Linked DNA regions of Homo sapiens: region 1 is linked to region 2. A link means that fine-mapping ties the variant in region 2 to the expression of a gene that starts in the linked region. Tissue or cell type: whole blood. Region 2 holds a variant in brackets; the other region holds the start of a gene. All regions are shown on one strand. Distances are from middle to middle.

Region 1 (8,109 bases), 410 kb after region 2:
AGATTGCCAACACTCTTTCCTATCATTTCTAGCCCAACAAGGGAGCCATTTGCTTTTCTAATGCGTTCATACCCTTAATAATGTGAATCAGGGCGAAATGGTGTCACATTTGTGGTAAGTCCTTAAAATGGCTATTAGCAATCAACTCTCCAGAGTCCAAATCTACCACTCTCCTACAGAGGAGAGTAAACATTAGTTTGGTCACTAAAGGGCCTGGCAAGTTTCTTTTCTCTTTCCATGCTTTTAGGGAACTAGAGAGGAAACTGAGGTATAAAATAAAGTTACGTGACGGTTGCATACTTCTTTCATTCATACCAAGAAAACAGAGCCACAAACCAAACAATTTCACTTCATTTAAGAACCATCATGAATTCACTGTGGTATCTCCCCCCACTGTAAGGGGATTTTTGTTGGTTGTCTCATTATTTTCCCATCACAGCAGTGAAATTAGGACATGCTTCAGCATTCCTCAACCGAATCTTAAAACATCTTTACGGCCGGGCGCGATGGCTCACGCCTGTAATCCCAACACTTTGGGAGGCTGAGGCGGGCAGATCACGAGGTCAACAGATGGAGACCACGGTGAAACCCCGTCTCTACTAAAAATTAGCCGGGCGTGGTGGCGGGCGCCTGTAGTCCCAGCTGCTCGGGAGGCTGAGGCAGGAGAATGGCGTGAACCCGGGAGGTGGAGCTTGCAGTGAGCCGAGATCACGCCACTGCACTCCAGCCTGGGTGACAGAGCAAGACTCCGTCTCAAAAAAAAAAAAAAAAAAAAATCTTTACATCCTTTAGACTAGTGAATCTACACGAGCAAGGTCTACGCCGGGGAGATTCACCGAACACTTCAACTTTTAACTGTCCCAGATCTCATCTCTTTGACTTGTTTTATCTTTAAATCAAAAGGCATTACATTCAGTTATACTGAAGCGACTAAAAAATGTGGATTTACCTTTTGGAAATATACCTCCCCTTCCTCCCTCTACTAACTTCAACAGCTCCCTCTCAGAATCACTATTCCAAAGTACTGACCAAGCATGACAGAATGAGTAGGAATTATAGGCTAAATCTGGAGAAAAGAAATCTGGAGCAAGCCTGATGAAGATATAGCTATTACTCCTTCCTTACCCTCTTTCAAGCATGATTCTTAAAAAAAATGTGTTACCACCATGCAGAACTTTTAGGAGTCAGTGCTTTGCTAAATATTTACATGTCATGATCGCTGAAGCAAACAAGATAAAGATGAAATAGGCAACACAACACAGCTAAGCTCTCTCTCAAGCAATAAGCAGCCCTCTACTCATCTTGTGCTTTGTTTTCATCATATACACTTTTTACTGAGGCATGCAATGCTTTCAGAAGTGTACATAAATCCTAAGTGCATACCGACACGTGTGTTCACTACTGCAAACTCTGTTTTTTGATGAACACAACTTGGAAGGGATTTGGGCAATTAGGAAAAACTGCTAACACGTTTTATACAATCCGCCCGACCGGAGGCAATCAACCCCCAGGCTTGCTAATGCCCTTTGTGTAAAAAAAGCTGACCTAGCCTCCACCTGCATCAACTTGATCCGCTCAGCTTTGTCACACTCAGCAAACACCCTCTGCCTTCTGAGCAAAATAAATCGGCACCTCCAGTAGGGAGAAAAAAACTTTTTATGACCGAGTCTGGAGAAGCAGCCTTGACACCCAATTTACAAAGAACGAGCGTCTGCGGAAGACCTTGCATCTAGACTCGGCTGCAGTGCCAAACCTACCTTATGCAAAAAAGCTCCACAAGTGGTGGTGTTCTGTTTAAAGGAAAATGCCAAACACACACAAATACTGAAACAATAGCATAAGGACTTCCATAACCATCATCCAGCTTCAACTATTTTTATTTTTGTTTTACTTTAAGTTCTGGGATACAGGTGCTGAATGTGCAGGTTTGTTAATAGGTATACATGTGCCATGGTGTTTTGCTGCACCTATCAACCCGTCATCTAGGTTTTAAGCCCTGCATGCATTAGGTATTTGTCCTAGTGCTCTCCCTCCCCTTTCCCCCCACCCTCCGACAGGCCCCCGTGCCTGAAGTTCCCCTGCCTGTGTCCATGTGTTCTTCCCAGCTTCAACTATTAACAATCCATGAACAATCTCCTCTCATCTTGTTCCCCTCCCTTCTCTGCTAGCATCTAAAACTGAATAATTCTGAAGCAAATCCCAAAGCTGTATTTCAACTTCAGTCTGTGTCTCTACAGGGATTTTAAAAACCTTAATCAGGATACCGTTACCAAAAGTAACTAAACAGAACTATTATAATTTCCTTGATACCATCAAATAATCAGTAGAAATGTCCTTCATCGTCTCCTTATTTATTTATTTATTTTGAGACGGAGTCTCGCTCTGCCTCCCAGGCTGGAGTGCAGTGGCGCCATCTCGGCTTACTGCAACCTCCGCCTCCCGGGTTCAAGCGATTCTCCTACCTCAGCCTTCCCGAGTAGCCGGGATTACAGGCGCGTGTCACCACACCCAGCTAATTTTTGTATTTTTAGTAGAGAAGGGTTTCACCATGTTGGCCAGGCTGGTCTCGAACCCCTGACCTCAGGTGATCCACCCACCTCGGCCTCCCAAAGTGCTGGGATTACAGGTGTGAGCCACCGCACTCGGGCATCATCTCCATTTTAAAAAACATTCATCAAATCAGGATCCAACCAACGTCCACACCTTGTATTGCCACCGAATTTCTCTTAAATCGTTTTGAAACTGCACACAGGTCCTCCTCCCTGCAATTCGCATAGCAACCAAGCTGATCCTCACTGACAATTTCCAAATAACTATAATAACTCTATTCTGGAGATATCACAAGTGCCGGTCTTAGAGCTTGTCAAATGTATACATATATGTTTATATTTATATATAAATGCACAAAAGCACACAAGAAACCATTTCACTCGAAGCAATAACAATCCTGAGAGCTAAACACTCGTTCATGTCTTTTGTGATGCTTCTCGGTGGGGGTTATCTCTGGGATTTAAGCGACACTTCCCCTTACCGGAGACATTTGCGCAAGTGTAGGACGAAGCGAGAGCGGTTCCTTCCAGCCGAACCTGCCTCCGGAGGCCCGGTCCGTGCGTTCGTCTCCGGACTGCAGGGGGCGGCCCTGCCACCACCTCGAGGCCACCTGCGCAGGTGAGAAAAGGAGTTTCAGTCTCCGGGTTCCTGGGGGTGGTCGCAGGTAATCTAGAGGGAATTTTGAGCCAGCCAGGATGGTCATCCAGGAACCTACCCGGACGCAACGGCCTCGGAAAACAAATAGCCGGGCAAGGCCCTGGGGCTTAATCCCAGTGGCGGGCGCGGGCGGGGGCGCCGTCCCCAACGCTCGAGGCCAGGGGAGGGGAGGCAAAGTCGGCCCCAATGAATGCACGCACGCGCGCGCGCGCGCGTGTGTGTGAGACTATTCACCTCTGGGCGCCAGGAAAGAGCGAAGAGTTGCATACACCCATTTCTATAACCTTGCTGGGTTTGTCATGTTTAAAAAGCATCTCCCCTGGAGAGAGGGTGGCGAGTCTCTGGGTGCGGGACACGCCCATTCCCCAGACCCCCTGCCCTCAAACCCACGACAGACCCCAGTTGCTAAGGCTCCGCGGTAATCCCCATCCCGAAGCAGGAAGGCTCGGGCGTCCGGGCTCCACTCCTGGATCTCTTAAGTAGCAGAGAACCCCCAGCCCCTGAGTTCCTGCAAAGGAAATTCCTTCCCCTCCCAGGCGCGCTGAACGCCCGGCCAGGGAGGCTGGGAGCGGCGCGGGGACCGTTCGCCGCCCCGAGGCTGGGACGCCGGTGGCGAGAGCGCCGGGCGCCCTCCACCTGCGCCCGCACTCACCCGAGGATCGATGGCTGTCGGCTCCGCAAGGTTGAGGCCCCGACACCTGCAGCGCCCGTGCCCAGGTGACCGCCCGAGGGAGGGGCGAGGGCCCAGCTCGCCCGCCTGGTCCCGCCCCGCCCCGCCCCGCCCCGCGCGCTCCCGGGAGGGGCAGGGGAGCACGGCCCCGGGACCCCGCGGCGACCCTGCTGTGGCTCAGCCGGCTCCAGACCAGGAAATGCGGGCGTCAGAGACGGGCAACCTTTGAGCGCGCACGTCCCGTCCGGGCCCAACGAAACAAGGGCCGGAGGGCGCCGCCTGCCGGCGGGACGGAAAGATATCACAGAGACTGTCACCCCCCGCCGGCTAGGAGAGGGCTGAGTTGAGGCTGGCAGAGGGACGCAGCCAGGGGTGCGCAGTGCGGGAGCCGCTTGGGGGCTCAGTGAGACCCCCTTCCTCATGCCACATCTTGAGGACCCGGCCCCTGTCCTAGGAGCTCCCCATCTCCCCAGCAGGCGGGCGAGCGGGGGCCACTGGGTCAGGGCCTCTCCTTCCCTTACCTCTGCAAATGTAAACTTGGCAGTTGTCTCCAGATAAGAGTTTACACAGGGTGGCCAGGCGGTGGCTCATGCCTGTAATCCTAGCACTTTGGGAGGTCAAGGTGGGCGGATCACTTGAGGTCAGGAGTTTGAGACCAGCCTGGCCAACATGGTCCACGTTGGTCCCCATGTCTACTAAAAATACAAAAATTAGCCGGGCTTGGTGGCACGCACCTGTAATCCCAGCTATTTGGGAAGCTGAGGCACGAGAATCGCTTGAACCCAGGAGGCGGAGGTTGCAGTGAGCTAAGACCGCACCACTGCACTCCAGCCTGGGCAGCAACAGCAAGACTCCGTATCAAAAAAAAAAAAAAAAAAAAAAAAAAAAAAAAAAAAGAGTATACACAGGGTGACAGAACTTCTTGAAACTTGTATGCTTCTAAGCAACCGCCTGCAGTGTACTGTGAATTCAGATTTTTAAATAAAAATCTGCAAATATTAAATAGCCCATATATTGCATTGCCTTTTTTGTGTCAACAGTGCTAATTTGTTGTCATTCAACAAATATTTGTTGAGCACCTACGACTTGCCGGTCATTTAAACATTTAAAATATCGAACAATTAGGCCAGCGCAGTGGCTCAAGCCTGTAATCCCAGCACTTTGGGAGGCCGAGGCGGGTGGATCACTTGAGGTCACGAGTTCAAGACCAGCCTGGCCAACATGGTGAAACCCTGCCTCTACTAAAAATACAAAAATTAGTTGGGCGTAATGGCACATGCCTGTAGTCCCAGCTACTTGGGAGGCTGAGGCAGGAGAATGACTTGAACCCAGGAGGCAGAGGTTGCAGTGAACCAAGATCACGCCATTACACTCCAGCCTGGGCAACAGAGACAGACTTCATCTGAAACAAATAAAATAAAATAAAATATTGCACAATTTCTTCCTTCTCCTCTTCACGCAGAGCCTTGAACAAGGGGAGTGTCCTGAGCCTCTCAACCTCTCTGAGTGTCATAGCAGTTAGAGATTAAAGATGACCATGTCCATACACGTTTGTATCTCTCCACAATGTCAGTCTTTTTTTTTTTTTAAATGCTATTTCAATCACAAAATCCAGGAGCTACATGGAGTTCCCAAGGAGGCAATTCTCCTTAGTCCTTCCCATTCACTCTGTAGTCAGAGCACATAGGTTCAAGCCACTCCATAAGTCAGTAAATATTGCAAACCATACATACTAGTATACTTAATCACTATACGAATGTTGTAGATTAAACATTCCACAACAAAGTAATATTTAACATCAAGACGAAGAAGAGGAGAAAGGGTTAATGAACCAGTCCAAAGGGAGGGAAGAAGACAAAGGGAGTCCTGGTCTGGGCCTGGTGGTCTTGCAAGGAAGAGTCTTTGATGTGGCAGAGCTTTCGGTGGCAAATTCTGAGTTCTTATCATGAGTGACTGCAAGACGGTGTTAGTGAAGACAGCCAAGCTGAAGGCTTCGCTCTTTTACAGTCAGAGGGTCCTCTGGTGAGAACTTATAGTGGATGAGTGTGCTTGTTTGTGTTCTTTTTTAAAATTTGTTCGTCAAGCAAAACATCTTATCCTTGTTAGCAAAGTGCCCATGAAATATAAAATGGAGGGTTTTTCTAAGATGGAATTAGTTACCTCAAGGGTGGTTTATACACTGAGAGTCTGGACTAGCCTTGCAAGGAACTCAGTAATTGCCCAAGGGTGCAAGAAGAACCCTGATAGAATTAAGTGTGGGTTGCTAGGGAGACTGAGGAGCAGCTTCACCTGGCCTGGAGTGGCAGAGAGAACTTCCTGGAGAAGTGCAGAGGCCAACTGAATCACAGAGGAGTACCGGGTTCAACGGGATGTGAGGTGCTTCCGCCAAGATTCCAACGTGTGCAAAGTGGGAAGTGGAAAGCCAGGCAGAGAGTTCATGTTCTAATAAGGGAATGGCAAGTGGGTCAGAAGACCTGAGAGGGAGAGGATGGGAGTTGAGTTAGAGCAGAGGGCATGGGGGCCAAATCATACTCATAACAAAAATAACCATCATCTAGGGAGTGGATAGTATAGAACAGGAGCTGGACATACATAACTTCAAACGAGCCTCACGCCAACCCTGCAAGGTAGGGTTATTACTCTCCTTTATAGAAGAGGAAAATGAGAGCCGGGCACAGTGGCTCACACCTGTAATCTCAGCACTTTGGGAGGCTGAGGTGGGCAGACTGCATGAGGTCAGAAGTTTGAGACCAGCCTGGCCAACATGGTGAAACCCCGTCTCTACTAAAAATACAAAAATTAGCCAGGCATGGTGGCGGGCGCCTGTAATCCCAGCTACTCAGGAAGCTGAGGCAGGAGAATCACTTGAACCTGGGAAGCGGAGGTTGCAGTGAGCTGAGATCACACCATTGCACTCCAGCCTGGGCGACAAGAGCGAGACTCTGTCTCAAAAAAAAAAAAAAAAAAAAAAAAGAAGAGGAAAATGAGACTGAGACCCAGGAAGGAGAGACATATTGCTAGTGACAAGGCTGGGGTAGGGTAGCTCTGAGCAGCCAGGCTGCCCTGTCAATGCCTCTCTCCAGGCGGATCTGGGAGGCTGGATTTATCTTCAAATACTTTCAGCATCCCCAAGTGCCTGCCACTCTCCCACCATTTCTTAAGCCGATGTCAACAACTGCCCTGAAGTCTCTCTGTCTAGAGATGATGTGTACATGGGTCCGCATACCAGACTCCTCCTGAGGGGAACTCTGTCTCAGGGGCTGGTGGAGGAACTGTGGCAGACAGAGACCTTGGTTGCTCCCCACTGTCCATTCTTTCCTTCTTCTGTAATAAAGTCATGTGCTGCAATGACATTCTGGTTAACAATGGATCACATCTACAACAGTGGCCTCACAAGGTTAGAATGGAGCTGACAAATTCCTATCACCTAGTGATATCTTGATGATACTGACCCTGTGTAGGCCTGCACCTTTGTTTTTAAGAAAAAAAGTTTAAAAGGTAAATAAATGCATTTTCAAAATGGGAAAAATAAGCTTATAGAATAAGAATAGAAGAAAATATTTTTGTACAGCTGAAACGTATTTGTGTTTTAAGGCGTATTATTACAAAAGAGTCAAAAAGTTAAAAAAAAATTTAAAGTTTACAAAGTAAAAAAGTTACAGTAAGCCAAGATTAACTTATTGTTAGTGTAGCCTAAATGTAGTGTTTATAAAGTCTGCGGTAGTGGACAGTAATATCCTAGGCCTTTTCATTCACTCACCCACAGCAACTTCCAGCCCTGCAAGCTCCATTCATGGTAAGTGCTCTATACGGGTATACCGTTTTTATCTTTTATATTGTATTTTTACTGTGCCTCTTCTATGTTTAGAGACATAAATTCTTACCGTTGTCTACAGTATTCAGTACAGTTGCCTACAGTATTCAGTACAGTCACATGCTGTGGAAGTTTGCAGCCTAGAAGCAATAGGCTATACCATATAACTTAGGTGTGTAGTAGGCTATACCATCTAAGTTTGTGTAAGTACACTCCATGTTCACAAAATGAAATTGCCTAAAGACGCATTTCTCAGAATGTATCCCTGTCATTAAGGGGCTGTAATAGAACTGAAGCTAAGCCCAGAGCTTCGTGGAACAAAGACTATCTTTCCCTGCCTCCTTGTAGCAAAATGCATCAACAGTGGTGCCCAGAGCTCCTAGAAATCCAGAGTCCAGTGGTACTTCCGAGGCGGCTT
Region 2 (8,109 bases):
AGTCTGGAGATTTCTCAAAGAACTTAAAACAGGCCGGGCACAGTGGCTCACTCCTGTAATCCCAGCTGTTTGGGAGGCTGAGATGGGTGGATCACTTGAGGTCAGGAGTTCAAGAACAGCCTGGCCAACATGGTGAAATCCCATCTCTAAAAATACAAAAATTAGCCAGATGTGCTAGCGCACATCTGTAATCCTAGCAACTTGGGAGGCTGAGGCAGGAGAGTCACTTGAGCCTAGGAAGTAGAGGTTGCAGTGAGCCGAGATCACACCACTACACTCCAACCTGAGCAACACAGCGAGACTCCATCTCAAAAAAAAAAAAAAAAAAAAAAAAAAAACAGAGCTACCATTTGACCCAGCAATCCCATTACTGGGTATATACCCAAAAAAAATAATTGTTCTACCTTCTGCCAAAAAGACACACGAACTTGTACATTCATCACTGCACCATTCATAATAGCACAGACATAGAATCAACCCAGGTGCCCTATCAATGGTAGATTGTATAAGGAAAATGTGGTACAGATATACCATGGAATACTATGCAGCTGTAAAAAAGAATGAAATCATGTCTTTTGCAGCAGCATGGATGCAGCTGGAGGCCATAATCTTAAAAAAAATTAACATAGGAACAGAAAACCAAATACCACATGTTCTCATTTATAAGTGGGAGCTAAACACTGAGCATTCATGGATATAAATATGGGAACAACAGACACTGTGGACTACTTGGGGTTGGGGAAAGAACTACCTATTGGGTGCTATGCTCACTACCTGGGTGATGGAACCCATACTCCAAACCACAGCATCACGCAATAACCCCATGTAACAAAGCTGCACATGGACCCCTGTATCTAAAATAAAAGTTGAAATTTTAAAAAATAATAAATACTTGATTAGAAATTTAGGAGATCTTCATAAGCCAAACAGTTCTTCCACATTTTATTCCCAGCTATCAACAGTTCGCTGACTGGCAAAGAGAGCCCTTTCTGTGCCAAATTCTCAAATTCCTCCTCTTTCCCCACCTGAGGGTAGGCCCTTCCATGCTCTCATCAGCCTCAATCAAATCCAGGGCAGAAAAAACACCCAGCTCTGAGGCTCAGAGAGAAAACCACATGCTCCCATTTCTAAAACCTAAAAATTCAAACTTTTCGAACTTTTATTATATATATGTGTTAGCCTGATGCTTACCCATCAGAGCCATGCAGAGTGTTTTTAGGAAGGAATGAGCCCTTTGTAGGTCAATTAACTCGATGAGATAAGCATTGCAGCAGGCTTTCCTTCAGAGAGGGGAAATACGAATGATTTCTGACTCTAACTTCAAACAGAGCAACAGGAATGCAATTTGGAACATAATCCAAAGAGGAAATAGTCCATCCCAATTCAATTCTGGTGGCTGGAAGACTGATTTAATTTCCTTCCTAGTGGAGACACTCCTCACAGGGTGGGGTGGGGAGGAGCGAGGGGTTTCCTGGCCACGGGATTTCCCTGTTTCATGAAGCTCTATTTCCAAAGCAGCCCCTTTCATGTACTGAGATTAAGTTTAAGATGCGGATGCAATGTCCTTGGCTTCCTCACTCGTCATGTCAATCTTTTAAGAGAAGGTGGAGATTGGATTAACCAACGTTGATGGAAAGGGCAGGGAAGGAGATGTCCTCCAAGGATGCTTCCATAGCAAGCTGTGAGCCTTGAGGAGCCGCAGAAGAAAGCACCTCTGCCCTATCTGCTCTCTGATGCCAGAAATTCCTCCATTGGAAACAAAGTCCCGCGTTCCTCAATAAGGAGATTGTTAAGTGCCTTCACAGTTAACTCCCCCTGGAAGAAGGAACACAGCGTCTTAATTCACCCACGTTGAGATATGAACGACTGACATCATCAGTTCCTTCTGAGAAAGCAGGTCTTCACAAGCCATGAGAAAAAATATTCTGAGGTCCCTGGGTGCCTGAGAGGGAATTAAGGGGACTCAAGTACAGAAGGGAGAGGCCAGGGTCCCAAAGACATACTTCACAACTTTTCCCCAAGATAGCGCTAAATACAACAAGGACTGGAAGACACCATAAACCTGCCCTGAAGTGAAATCCCCAAGGACCACTCTGAGGGGAGAGATGGCGGTGGGGGGGCGGGGGGGTGGAGCAAAGAGGCTCGGACTTAGAGAGACCAGGATCGCCATTGCTGTCTATGTAAATGCAGGCAAGCCAGGAGGGCAGTGAACGTGCTCTCCTGCTTCCTGCTGCACGCTGGCACCTAGTGCGGAGCCTGGGGCACAAGAGGCACTCAATAAATATTTCCTGAAGGAGTGAATACATACAAGTTAAGTTTTCCGGCCGGGTGCAGTGGCTCACACCTGTAATCCCAGCACTTTGGGAGGCCGAGGAGGGCAGATAACTTGAGTGACTTCGAGACCAGCCTGGCCAACATGGTGAAACCTCGTCTCTACTAAAAATACGAAAACTAGCCAGGCGTGGTGGCGGACGCCTATAATCCCAGCTACTCAGGAGGCTGAGCCAGGAGAATCGCTTGAACCAGGGAGGCGGAGATTGCAGTCAGCTGGGATAGCGCCATTGCACTCCAGCCTGGGGTAACAAGAGCGAAACTGTGTCTCAAAAAAAAAAAAAAAAAGGAGTTAAGTTTTCCCTCATCATCCAGATACCCTCGCTATGCTCCCGCCAAAAGCAGAGAACAATTTCAATCACTCTGTTTAAATATTCAACAGTTCTATCTGAAAGAATTCAGATCCTTTAATCACTTTTAGAAAATGATCCTAAGAAAATAAATCACCAGATGTATTTATCTGTAACTACAGGGGAAAAAAATACCAAAAAAAAAATTGAAATCGACTTAATGCCCCAAACTAGAAATTGTTTAAATTAATTATGGTGTATCTATAAAACTCAATACTGTATAGCCATCTAAAAACAAGTTTTCAAAGAATGTTTAATGACATAAGGAATGGCAATTATGTTAAATTGTAAAAGTAGGATGCAAAATGTATATTTAGTATATATTTAGTTTTGAATAAGTGTGTATGTTATATAGCATAGAAAAATATTTGGAAGAAGATTATATAAAGTGTTAATGATTGTTACCTCTAAAAATTCTGATTTGGGGTGGTTTTGCATTTTCTTTTTCATACTTTTTTGTTTTCTCTAGCTGTTCTTCAAAGCATATTTTACTTTTCTAATCAGAAATAAAAATAATCTTTATTTCTTATGACAGAAGGGCCTTTTCAAATATTTGTCATGTTCTCACTGACAAACCAAGAAGGCATCCTGGCACCTTTTTCCAAACAATGACACAAATAATAGAAGCTAGCCTCTCAAGGCCACATCATACACAGGCCACTCTCTCTACATGGCATATATAGGTTTAGGATGCTTATATTCCATCAGCAGAAGGAAGTCACACTCAGAGTTCATTAGCTTGGATGTCTGGCCTACATACATATTGGTTTTGTTTTGTTTCTTTCAGGATGTAAGTATGATTTAATCATTTCATACATATAAATTCTCAGTTAGGAAGAAAAGTGTATGGGGGTTCTGGAAATATGGTCACCTTCATGATAGCATAGAATACCATATCTATAGGTCAGCCTTGAACTTAGATGTCATTGATCTCTGAAGAATGTCATAACACTGCCTTATTCATAACATAGTGCTACAACATAAACCCCAAACATATATATTGTTAAGGACTAAATATTAGTGTGAATTTGTTCCAGATGTCAAAGATTTCCAGAAAATTACAATTTTAAAGGACAAATGCATACATCTGTGTATTTCACTGTAAATATTCAGCTTAATTGTTCCACCAAATCTGGGGATACCGCTTGCCATAATGGCCAATAATTATTTGTTAAATCAGATCGAACAGAATTTTATCCACATCTGCCAAAAATGTAATTATGTATAAAATGTGTATATGGTTCATGATTTGTAAATGAAATATATCCTTCACTAAGGTCATTTTTCCCCTTAAAATCTTCAGTGGCTCCCTACTGCCAACAGAGCAAA[G/T]CCCCTCACAGCCGCATCACACCCAGCTCTCCAGGTTCATGGCTGCCCCTCCCCCAGGCATCTTATATCCTGACCTCAACCAGCTCCTCAGTGTTTCCTGAGCACACTCTCTTTTCTTGTGTCTTCTTGAATGTCCTTGGCCCACTTGTTGGTTCAGCATACTCCCATTTATTCTTCAACTTCGTCTCAAAAGTATCTCCTCTCTTTGACTTTCTGGAATTTGCCCTCTGTCTCCCTTCCTCCCCCACAAGTTCCCATAGCAGTCTTTTTTTCATGTACATAGCATTTTACATGTTGAATACAGTTATTGGTTTATATGTCTCTCTCTCTCTTCCCCTGTGGATCAGAAGCCTCCAAAAAGATACAAAAAAGAAAATATTATTTAATTTTCTAAAATGTTTTTAATCTCAGGATTAAGAAAAATTAAGCCTCATATTTAATATGTAAGGCCTAATTTGTATCGTATTGTATTGTATCATGGAGTTTACTATGGATTTAGATGGAATCACGTATTCATCAGAGCATCCTTCTGTGGTCTGATGACCATGCGGGTCATCAGGTGCTCCCGAGGATAAAGGATCCTCATCAATGAAGAGAGGTGGGCAGTGCCACCATCACTCTTCATTTGAGATATGATAGTTGTTAGATTATAAATGCCCATTTAAGTAGACGTTTACATTGCATTATTTGTTTCTTCTAAACTAACCCCATAAAAAACAACTAGTCATTTTAAAAGATTCCTGCAAAGATACCATAAAATAGCCATTGCAGTGAAAACAGTGGAGCCAAAAATACAAAAGTTTGCCATGTAACAAGAATTTCAAAACAAAATAAGGCTGGGCACAGTGGCTCACGCCTGTAATCCCAGCACATTGGGAGGACGAGGCAGGTGGATCACCTGAGGTCAAGAGTTTGAGACCAGCCTGGCCAACGTGGTGAAACCCCATCCCTACTAAACATAAAAAATTAGCCAGGTGTGGTGCAGGGCGCCTGTAATCTCAGCTACTTATGAGGTGGAGGCAGGAGAATCGCTTGAACCCCAGAGGCAGAGATTGCAATGAGCTGAGATCGTGCCATTGCACTTCAGCCTGGGCAACAGAGTGAGACTCTGTCTCCAAAAAAATAAATAAATAAATAAAATAAAAATAAGCACTGTTAATCTGTGATTTTATGAGAAATAATCCGTGAACTCATGAGAAAGCAATTGCTTTTAATTGCTTTTCAAATGAAATGAGTTCTATGGAGAGACCATTTTGAACAAAGATATTTGGACAGGTATATTATCTTATTAATGAAAATATTATGTGTCATCCATAAAAATAGTCCTATCATAGATACAGAAAATTTAGAATTTTTAAACGTGGTTAAGTAATCTTACAAATCAAGAGTCTCCATGGGCTTTCAAGCCATTTTTTAGAAATACAAAAATGCAGCCGGGTGCAGTGGCTCACACCTGTAATCCTAGCACTTTGGGAGGCCAAGGCAGGGAGATCATCTGAGGTCTGGAATTTGAGACCAGCCTGGCCAACATGGTGAAACCCCGTCTCTACTGAAAAAAAGTAGCTGGGCGTGGTTGCGTGTGCCTGTAATCCCAGCTACCTGGTAGGCTAAGGCAGGAGAATTGCTGCAACCTGGGAGGTGGAGGCTGCAGCGAACCAAGATTGCACCATTGCACTCCAGCCTGGGTGATAGAGTGAGACTCCATCTCAAAAAAAAAAAAAAAAAGAAAAAAGAAAAGAAAAGAAAAAGAAATGCAACATATTCTGATTAGCTTGCAAGAACAACTGAAAGGCATCAAGGAAAATGGAGAAACTACTGCCAAATTTTAATGTAAATCTTTGCAAAATGTTTAATATAAATCTTTGCATTATACCCTTTGACGCAGGGTATAACGATATGATTATGTGTTTCTGCTGTATGGTTCTATGTATCCATATAAGATTTTTTTTTCAGCTAAAGCAGCCACTGAAACCAAGTAATAAAATTAACTGAACTAAGAATCAGACCTTTGAATGTTTTTATCCCAAATATTAAATAATGAAGTAGGTTCAAATATTGATCTCACTAAAATATTACTAACAAAAAAGAAAAAAGCTTGTATCATTAATAAATAATATGAAATAAAATTAAAATGTTATTTCATTTTTTCCTATTATTTAACTTTTTGTGTACATTTTATGCTGTACATGATACATTATTACAGCTGCACATCTTTATACAATTAAATAAACATAAGTATGGACATTTATTGCCAGAGGAGGTAGTTAATAAAAGTTTGCAGAATGAGAATCTTCTTATAAGATCTAATAGTATAGATATAAAAAATGGCATGAGTCCTATACATAAAATGTGAAGAAAGATATAAAAAGGGGGGGACGGGAAGAGAAAAAGAAACTGTTGGGAGGCCATGGTCTGTTTTTTTATAATAATCAAACAGAGAGAAATCCTCTCTAAAAATTTCGGTGGCCTAATATTTAAGCTACACCACTGGTTAAAAGACAAAAATGTGGAATTATCTATCCATATAAGAAAGTATATTAGAGAAGAATTATATCTTGAAGTTTAGTGGCATTTTCTAGCAAACTCTCAAGATCTGATCATTAAAAAATAAATTCATTTGACAGAACAAAGGCACATTCTAGTATCTTTCCTAAGAACACACTAATTTGAATTCATAATAGGATGAATTCTAAGTTTCTAAAAAATGCCCAGCTGGTTATTGAAAAAAAAAATAGATGGAAATTAGAGGCATTTTTATCACTTATCATTATATAGCAATTTAGTGTTTGAAAATGAGATTGAAACATGTTTTGTTTTCTTCTCACGCATCCCGTGGAACTTTTGTTTCCGCTTAACAGGTTAGAAGGCGGATGCACGTGAAGCTAATGCACTTATTGCTGTACCCATATCTTCAGTTGCCCACAAAATATTTTACCTCAATTCTTCAGCAAAACTTGAATCTTAAAAACTGCTCTTTTCAGGTGCTGGAATTCATTTAATGACCTAATGAGACGAGGAGAGCAAATTTGATGGCAACCAAATGAACTATGGATGGGGCAAAGGGACAGGAGACAATTGGAGAAGAAATAAAAGGAAAAACAACTTTCACTGTGGTGGGGGCAAACATATGGAACTTGTTAACTTCAAGTGACATTGCTAGCTGAAACATTATGGGGTTCAAGGAGGGTTCAGAGGTATTCATGGGGAAAAACTCTCTAACAGGCTACGAAGTGAAAGTTGGATTTGTTCCGGAGACAACGCCTGGCTTTGGAGGTGGCCCTCCAGGAGGACACTTACCCAATCCTTCTCCCCATCAGGAGCACAGCAGCTACCCCAGCCTGACACAGTGCAAGATTCTTTTGTCCTTATCATGACATCAGAAATAAATTCCAAATCTTAATACACAGAAGGAGTCTTTGATGGCCTCCCAGCCACAGCTTGGCCCAGCACCCTCCCTTGGAGGGAAAGTACAGGACTGAGAAATCAGAATCCTGGCTCTCTTTCTTTTCCATCCTGAGGCCAATTTTTTTTTTAACAATACCAAGGCTCTGTCTTCTCTCTAGGGGTCTTCCAGGATCAAAAGTGGCTTAAAAAGACCTCTTGATCTAGTGTGCACTCTTGTTTTATTTTCAAGTTTTAAGCCAAAACTGGTTAACTTCAAAAGGGCTATGTGCAAAAATCCTAATATTGTTTTCCTAAAGAGGTCTTGTTGTATGATTGATATTTTGAGGGTTTTCCAGCCCAGTGATTTCTTTGCTGAAAACAGAGCATACCCACTCGTTTTGGCATTTCGTTTGCCAACCAAATCTATAGCCTGAACACTGTCCATTCCCTTGCCTTAACAACACTGGGACTTGCTAACAAGTGCTGCCCCCAGTGAACCACACCTACCAAAAAGTATTTGTGTGTGCCTTTACTTTCTGCATACATCCCTGTCATTAATTAGGACCTCAAGGCCTACGAGAGAGTTTATTTCCTTCCATAGAGAATTCCCCTTATTTCCTGAAAATCTGTTTGTGACGTGGTAGAGAATATGAGTCTATATTTCCTCTTTCCAGAGATACAAATATCCAAGAGCCCCTATACCATAGAGAAGCTT

What was found. PIP is the estimated chance that this variant, and not a neighbour inherited with it, causes the effect.
Region 1: GPR160 starts here. The variant in region 2 is fine-mapped to the expression of GPR160 in whole blood (INTERVAL, PIP 0.99).

What each region holds. Positions count from the first base shown.
Region 1 is chr3:170,033,966-170,042,074 of GRCh38, reverse strand. It overlaps GPR160 (G protein-coupled receptor 160), which reads right to left and starts at 4,080. Exons shown (of 4, transcript NM_014373.3): 1 at 3,860-4,080; 2 at 3,032-3,160. RefSeq lists silencers at 3,056-3,105, 3,266-3,315, 3,626-4,105 and an enhancer at 2,701-3,200.
Region 2 is chr3:170,447,996-170,456,104 of GRCh38, reverse strand. No RefSeq gene overlaps it. Among named protein-coding and RNA genes, the nearest start is that of SLC7A14-AS1, 15 kb to the left of the region's middle. The variant G/T (reference allele first, on the strand shown) is at 4,011.